Regions from separate parts of the Homo sapiens genome. Here regions 2 and 3 are each linked to region 1. The links come from fine-mapping of genetic effects on gene expression. A gene starts in region 1. Each other region holds a variant in brackets. All regions are shown on one strand. Distances are between the middles of the regions.

What was found. PIP is the estimated chance that this variant, and not a neighbour inherited with it, causes the effect.
Region 2: its variant is fine-mapped to the expression of MRPS25 in whole blood (TOPMed, PIP above 0.99).
Region 3: its variant is fine-mapped to the expression of MRPS25 in whole blood (TOPMed, PIP 0.94).

What each region holds. Positions count from the first base shown.
Region 1 is chr3:15,063,628-15,066,392 of GRCh38, reverse strand. It overlaps MRPS25 (mitochondrial ribosomal protein S25), which reads left to right and starts at 1,078. Exons shown (of 4, transcript NM_022497.5): 1 at 1,078-1,332. The coding sequence starts at 1,199. RefSeq lists an enhancer at 919-1,098.
Region 2 is chr3:14,997,367-15,000,131 of GRCh38, reverse strand. The region is part of intron 1 of NR2C2 (nuclear receptor subfamily 2 group C member 2); the gene reads right to left. Among named protein-coding and RNA genes, the nearest start is that of FGD5-AS1, 50 kb to the right of the region's middle. The variant A/T (reference allele first, on the strand shown) is at 1,107.
Region 3 is chr3:15,131,576-15,134,340 of GRCh38, reverse strand. It overlaps the pseudogene RPS24P10. Among named protein-coding and RNA genes, the nearest start is that of RBSN, 34 kb to the right of the region's middle. The variant C/A (reference allele first, on the strand shown) is at 1,171.

The sequences.
Region 1 (2,765 bases):
GGGCGGATCATCTGAGGTCAGGAGTTTGATACCAGCCTGACCAACATGGAGAATCCCCGTCTCTACTGACAATACAAAATTAGCTGGGTGTAGTGGCGCATGCCTGTAAGTCCGGCTACTCGGGAGGCTGAGGCAGGAGAATCACTTGAACCTGGGAGGCGGAGGTTGCGGTGAGCCAAGATAGCACCATTGCACTCCAGAAGGGAGGGAGGGAAAGGAAAAACACTAACCTAGAATTCTAAATCTGGCAAAATCACTCTTCAAAAGAGAAGGAGAAATACCTTTCAGATCAAGAGTACTTCAGAAATGTATCTTTTTTTTTTTTGAGAGGGAGTCTTGCTCTGTCGCCCAGGCTGGAGTGCAGTGGCGCGATCTCGGCTCACTGCAACTTCCCGGGTTCGAGCGATCCTCCCACCTCAGTCTTCTGAGTAGCTGGGACCACAGGTGCTGCCACCACACCAGGCTAATTTTTGTATTTTCAGTAGAGACGGGGTTTCGCCATGTTGGGCAGGCTGGTCTCGAATTCCTGACCTCAAGCGATCCTTCCGCCTCGGCTTCCCCAAAGGCTGGGTTTACAGGCGGGAGCCACCGCGCCTGGCCCTAGAAATACATCTCACCCATAGTTTGTTTACGAAAAAATTGAGGTCCTGAGTTAAGTGGCTGAATTTAGGAAGGAATTGATCCCAAACCATCTTTTTTTCTTTTGCTAAGAAGTTTAAGTCAACGTCAGAAAGTGCAGTTTGAACTCTTCATGATAAAACTGGAGATGTTTGGGGAGAAAAATGGACAATACGTTCAATAGGACGTTATCAGCTGACTTGGTATCCAAACTGAGCTTTCCTGATTATTTCTTATTGCAATGTCTGACTTTTAGCCTATGTAAAAATATTTTCCCGTGGGTGGATGGGGAAATGACTAATTTACAGGACGCGACAACCTAAACCTTCCAAGGGGAAGGCGTCCTAAAGCGAAGCTGCACACACCGGTTCTCGCCGCGCCGGGTCGAAGGCCGCCTACAAGTCCCAGAGTGCTCCGCGGCGTGCGCTGCCCGCCGGGAAGCGTCTCCTGTGCGTCTGCGCGGGAAGTGGAACCTGGCTCTGGGGAGAAGCCGCGTGAGATCCGCGCGGGTGCTAGCTAGTCCTTTCTCGTCGCTGCTCGGCTCGCGGCCCGTGGGGTCGGCCCCGCCACCGTTGCCGCCATGCCCATGAAGGGCCGCTTCCCCATCCGCCGCACCCTGCAATATCTGAGCCAGGGGAACGTGGTGTTCAAGGACTCCGTGAAGGTCATGACAGTGAATTACAACACGCATGGGGAGCTGGGCGAGGGCGCCAGGTCAGTCGCAGCCCCGGCCGCCTGGCGAGCCGTAACCTGCTAGTCGTGCCAGCCTGCTGGTAACGTGAGGTCCCGAGTCGCTCTGGGCGGCCGTTCATCCCCGGGGCGGGCCCCCCAGGTCGGCGCTGTTACCCCCATTTTACAGAGGTCCAGACTGAGGCGGACGGCGGGGCCCCCGCCGGGCCGGCTGCAGTCGTGACGAGGTTTGGGGGGCGGAGGACAAGAACCCCACTCCTGGATCTCCTTCCTCCGGCGCGGTGGGCGAGGCTGACCCGAGGGAGGCCACCAGTTCCCTTGGCCCCTCTGGCCAGCAAGGCAAGCGCTGGGGAGGGGCAGCCGCAGATCCTTTCGGGGTGACGGGGGTGACACCCCAGGACGAATCTGAGGATAAAATGAGAGAAATAACAGCGGCGAACACTGATCATATCTCGCACAGTTCTGAATGCTTCTCGCGCTTTCTTTTTTCTGATGCCTAGAGAAACCCCAGCTTATCCCCACTCTAAGGCTGGGGAAGCGCACAGAGAGGTTAAGTAACTTGCAGCTCCACGAGACACCATGCCAGCCGGTGAGCGGTGAGCCGGGCAGTGTGGCCGCTTCCTTCGGGACTCAAGGTTTGGAAGGAAGTGATTAATTATGTCAGCTGTGCAGCGGCAGACCCTACCCCGACTAGAAGGAACTGTAGGGAACGCCTAGGATGTCTTTCAGCTTGGAGCAGAGTAGGGACTCATTGAATGGCAGTTGGCAAGTGAAAGGTTTGGATTGACCCTGAGGCAGCCCTAAGCAGTGCCTTAGGCTCTGCAGGTATGAAGTCTACATTTATTGAGTACACTCTGAGTGCTAGGCTGTGTGCTGTGTGCTGGGAGTTCAGCAGTGATGGAGGAGGCAGCCTTAGCCCGCAGAAACTTTGGGACTTGGGTGTATGTTGGATCAAAATGAGGCGTGGGGGCGGGGAGCAACTTCTTGTGGGGCATGGTCCCCTTGGTGACGGACCTTCACTGCATGGCCCTTCAAGAGATCCGGAAGCCGCTTCCTAGCCATTTGCTCTGCGCAGGTGAATCTGATAACTTGGACCTGCTTGCCTGGAATCAGCTGGCTTGATGGCTTCCTGGAAGACTTGGTCTTGGTCTTAGGGTGTATGGGCACCCAGATACTCCTTCATAACCTACTGCACAACTGTGCACACCTTTGTCCCCGGGCAACTGCCAGGCAGATAATGGGAAGGGGTGGGGGTCTCGGTGCGGCCCGCAGCGAGCTGGAGAGCACATGCCCTATCCAGAGGGCCCTTCACTGTTTGGCATTGTGGGCTCCGTGGAGAATTTCTCATTTGTCAAGAAGCTGAAATCTAGGTTTTTATGTAAATCTCTGGCTTTTAAATGGCCAGCCAATCAAAATAAGCCTGTGAGCCTCTTACTTACATTCTCAGATATTTTAAT
Region 2 (2,765 bases), 66 kb after region 1:
GAGGAATACTTTTCTTTTTTTTTAGACCTATTGCACAGCATGGCGAATACAGTTAATAATAGCCTATTGTACATTTCAAAATTGCTAAGAGTAAATTTCAAATGTTCTCATGGCAAAAATAAGTATTTAAGGTGATGGATATGTTAATGAGCTTGATTTAATTTTTACACATTGTAGTCACGGATCATAACATCACTTTGTACTGTAAATATATGCAATATAAACTCAATTTGTAACTTAAAAAAATTGCAGTACCGGCATAAAGACAAGACATACAGACCAATGGAATATAACAGAGAATGCAGAAATAAACCCTCACCTATATGTTCAAATTTGATAAAGGTGCCACGATAATTCAATAGGCAAAGAACAGTCTTCGACAAATGGTGATGGGACAAGTGGAAATCAAATGCAGGGGAACAAATCTGGACACCTACCTTGCACTATTACAAAAAAAAAAAATCAAAATGGATCAAAGATCTAAATGTAAGAGTTAAAACTATAAAACTCTCAGAAAACACAGGTGTAAATCTTCGTGAACTTGAATTAGGTGATTGTTTCTTAGATGACACCAAAAGCAAAAATAGCACAAGAAAAATTAGAAAATAATCATTAAAACTAGAAACTTTTTTTTTGGGGGGGACAAGATCTCTTACTCTGTTGCCTGTGCTAGAGCGCAGTAGCACAATTATGGTTCACTGCAGCCTCATCCTCCTGGGCCCAAGCAATCCTCCCAACCTCAGCTTCCTGAGCAGCTAGGATCACAGGTGTGTGCTACCATGCCGGGCCAATTTAAATTTTTTTTGTTTGTTTTTGAGACGGAGTTTCACTCTTGTTGCCCAGGCTGGAGTGCAATGGTGCGATCTCGGCTCATCGCAACCTCTGCCTCCTGGGTTCAAGTGATTCTCCTGCTTCAGCCTCCTGAGTAGCTGAGATTATAGGCATGAGCCACCACACCAGGCTAATTTTGTATTTTTAGTAGAGACAGGGTTTCTGCATGTTGGTCAGGCTGGTCTCCAACTCCTGACCTCAGGTGATCCACCCGCCTGGGCCTCCCAAAGTGCTGGGATTACAGGCGTGAGCCACTGCACCTGGCCTTAAAAAAA[A/T]TTTTTTTTTTGTTTTTTGAGACACGGTCTCACTCCTGGATGCCCAGGCCAGAATGCAGGGGCACAATCTTGGCTCACTGCAGCCTCAACCAACCTCCCAGGCTCAAGTGATCTCCCTACCTCAGCCCCCCATGTAACTGGGACTATGGGCGTGCGCCACCTAATTTTAAATATTTTTGCAGAGATGAGGTCTCCCTATGTTGCCCAGGCTTGTCTCCAACTCCTGGCTCATGTGATCCTTCCTCCTTGGCCTTCCAAAGTGTTGGGATTACAGGTGTGAGCCAGCGTACCTGAACTCAAATTAATGAGTTTTGTGTTTCAAAAGACACCATCAAGGAAGTGAAAAGACAACCTATAAAATGGGGGAAAAAAAAAGTGCAAATCATATATCATTACAACTTAATAACAAGACAAAAATCCCAATTTAAAAATGAGCAAAGAGTTAAACAGAAATTTCTCCTAGAAGATATACAAATGGCCAATAAGCACAGGAAAAGATGTTCCAAGGTCATTAGTTAGGGAAATGCAAATCAAGACCATGATGAGATACCACTTCATATCCACTAGGATGGCTACAATGTTAAACATGGACAATAACAAGTATTGGTGAAAATGTGGAGATGGGAACCTTCATACATTGCTGGTAGTAATGTAGAATGGTACAGTTACTTTGGAAAACAGTCTGGTTGTTCCTCAAAGGGTAAACACAGAGTTGCCATATGACCCATAATTTCACTCCTAGGTATATACTCAAGACAAAGAAAAACACATGTCTACACAAAAGCTTGTATACAAATGTTCACAGCAGCATTAGTGATAACAGGCAAAAAGTAGAAACAACTCAAATATCTCCCAAATGATGAATGGATAAATAAAACATGGTATATCCATGTAATGGAGTATTATTTGGCAATAAAAAGGAATGAAGTGCTGATACATGCTACAACATGGAAGACTCAGCCACGAAAGACCACCATATATTGCATGATTCTATTTATTTAAAATGTCCAGAATAGGCAAATCCATGGGGACAGAAAGTAGATTAGTGGTTGCCAGGTGACAGGGGAACAGGGGTAGCAAGAATAATTGCTAAGAGATGTGGGTTTTTTAGTGGGGGCATGATAAAAACATTCTGGATTTAGATAGTGGTGATGGTTGCATACTCTTGTGAATGTACTAAAACCCACTAAGCTGTATATTTTTAAAAAATGAATTTTATGGTATGTGAATTATATCTCAATTTGATAAAATATTATCAATTAATTCATTACTGGGCTATTAAATTTTTTTTTCTTTCATAAGCATACATTTTAACAACAAATTCACTACAATGAAGTCAACAGAATCCAGTATTTTTACAGTGACTTTTAGCTTAAAAAATATGGATTAGCTCTCTCTTGGCTAAGAAATAGGCAGGACAAGCACAACCATTTTATAGGAGGTATGGTGAGGCTGAGATCCTGCAAGGTATGTCTCCCAGGATCCATGTACACATAACTGCTAGCTCTGTTTATTTATAACTGAAAAGAAAAGGCTGGCCAATCACTTTATCAGAGCATATTCATTGCATCCTTTAATAATGAACATTTAAAATTTTGGTTGAGTCTATTAGTCTGCAAGTTAATTCTGCCAGTTTTAGATACAGTTATGTGTTGCTTA
Region 3 (2,765 bases), 68 kb before region 1:
TGTATTATTCTACCGAAAGTCCATTCCCCAACTTTCTCGGCTAGAATAACAGAAGCCCAATTAGAATTCATGCTACCAGTTTCCCACCACCACCACCACCACCGTCACCCTGCCATTGTTAGCAAAACCATCTCTTGAGTGGAGCTCAAAGATTTGTAATCTCCCACTCCCCAGAAAGATAACTTCAGACTCAGCCTAGAAGTAAAGATCCTCCAGATATGGCCTCAACTACCCTCCACCCCATGTCCCCAGTGCATCCCTTTGATGCCTCCTTCAGTGGAGTTAAAATGGAGTGAGTGTTTTTCTTTTCACATACTCCTGGTGTTCTTCCACAAATACAATTTTCACCTCTTGAATATTTTCAAGGATTCTCCATGCTACACACAGTGAAATCCAAACTCCCCGTCAGGACCCCAGTCTTCCCAAACCCTCTTTGCATTTTTCTGCCTCCATGCTTTTCCTTGGGTCATCCTCTTCTCTAATATAACCTTGTGTATTGTTCTAGGTTCTCCAGAGAAAGAGCAGAGAGATAGAGGTAGAGCTATACACATAGAGAGAGACAGATTGATTAGTTGTAAGGGATGGCTCACATGGTTATGGAGGCTAAGGAGTCCTGAAGTCTGCAGCCAGCAAGCTGGGGACCCAGGACAGCCAATGATATAGTTCCAACTCGAGTCCACATCTAAAGTCAGGACAAGATTGATGTCCCAGCTCAAATATAATCAGGTAAAAAGAGCAAATTCTCTGTGACTCTACCTTTTTGTTTTGTTCAGGCCTTCAGTGGATTGGATGAGGCTCACCCACATTGGGGAGGACAATCTGCTTTATTCAGTCTACCAATTAAATGTTATCCTCATCCAGAATATCTCAGAGACACACCCAGAATAATGTGTAGCCAAATATCTGGGCACCCCACAACCAAGTCCAATTGATACATAACACTAACCATCATGTCTTGCTTCTACTCTCTCCCCATTACTGCATGTCCAAATCCTTCCCTTATTTCAAGGCTTAGTTCAAATGTTACCTCTTAACTAAGCCTTCCCTGCTAACCCCAAATATTAATAGAATTGGTTTCTCTCTTCTCTGATGTCTCAAAATACGTTGTGTGTTTCTCTTTTACTGTATTTATTACAAACTCCCTTATAAATCAAGACAGTGATTCCCAGA[C/A]AAATTATCAAAAGAGTATAAAAGAAGTCTTCTTTGAGTGTGAAATATCTCATGGAATATAGCACATGGCCTCTTCATGAAGAAACTACTGGGAGAGAAGAAGACAAGCTGGAAGAGACCAGGGAAAGGGGGTTAGTACAAAGCACAATGAGGCTGGGCTCATACAGTGGCTCACACCTGTAATCCCAGCACTTTGGGAGGCCAAGGCCGGCGGATCACGAGGTCAGGAGATCGAGACCATCCTGGCTAACATGGTGAAACCCCGTCCCTACTAAAAATACAAAAAAGTTAGCCAGGCATAGAGGCGGGCACCTGTAGTCCCAGCTACTCGGGAGGCTGAAGAAGGAGAATGGTGTGAACATGGGCGGCAGAGGTTGCAGTGAGCCGAGATCGCGCCACTGCACTCAAGCCTGGGTGACAGAGCAAGACTCCATCTCACAAAAAAAAAAAAAAAAAAAAAAAAGAAAGCACAATGAAATGTCAGTGGATGGGTGCCTATAATTTCTAAGGGAAATAGAGTATAATCCAAGAATTTTATAGCCAGCTAAATTATTGCCCAATCAAAATAGGCAAAAGACATGATCACATGTTGAAGAACTTAAAGAGTACAGTATTTCTGAGCTCTTTTTTAAAAAAAAGTCTTCATAATGAAATTTAGTCAGCCAAGAAATTAAAAAATAAGCAACTTGTGAATTGAATGACCATGACAAAAGGCTAATTATGAGAGGTGAATCCATTTAAAAATAGGGCTATGATTGCAGAACAGAAAGAGAAGGTGGTCAACCTTAACAACATAAAATAACCTAGAAATAACTAGTTTCCAGAGGTAAAGGGAGGGACTGTAGGAAGTAGAAGCGCTAATGCCCTTTATTAAGTCAATTAATCAGGTCTAAAATTGAAACGTGGTTTTAAATATATAACTTCTTGCTTATTTTCCTCCCTAACTACCTGAGGATCAACCACCATGATAAATGACACAGTAACTATCTGGACCAGGAAGTTCATGACCAATCGACCACTCCAGAGGAAACAAATGGTCACCAATGTCCTTCACCCCGGAAAGGCAACAAAATGTACAAGACCACAATAGGTGTCATCTTCATATTAATAGTTGGACTCAGAACCCGTGTTGGTGGTGGTTAAACAATGGGCTTTGGCATGCTATCTGGTTCTTTGAATTATGCAAAGAAAAATGAACTCGAACATAGACTTGCAAGACACAGCTGGCATGAGAAGAAATGACCTCAAGAAAACAGCAAAAGGAATGCGAGGGCAGAATGAAGTCAAGAGACTGCAAAGGCCAATGTCAGTGCTGGCAAAAAGCAAAAGGAGTAAAGATTTTGCAATGACTTTATTTGCAGTGACTGTACAAATTTTTCATGAGATGATCAATCAACTGTGAAGACTTTTACATATATATAAAACATCTTAATATTTTTCATCATCTTTGATTTCTTAGATGTTCTAGAAACTGATTTTTAGTGAGGAAAAACTACATTTACCTGAGTTGACCAGTTCCTTCTGTTTCACTTCCATTTCTTTTTCTTCTGATAAATTTACACAGCATTCAATTTGCTACTTCTTGTTTTTAAAAT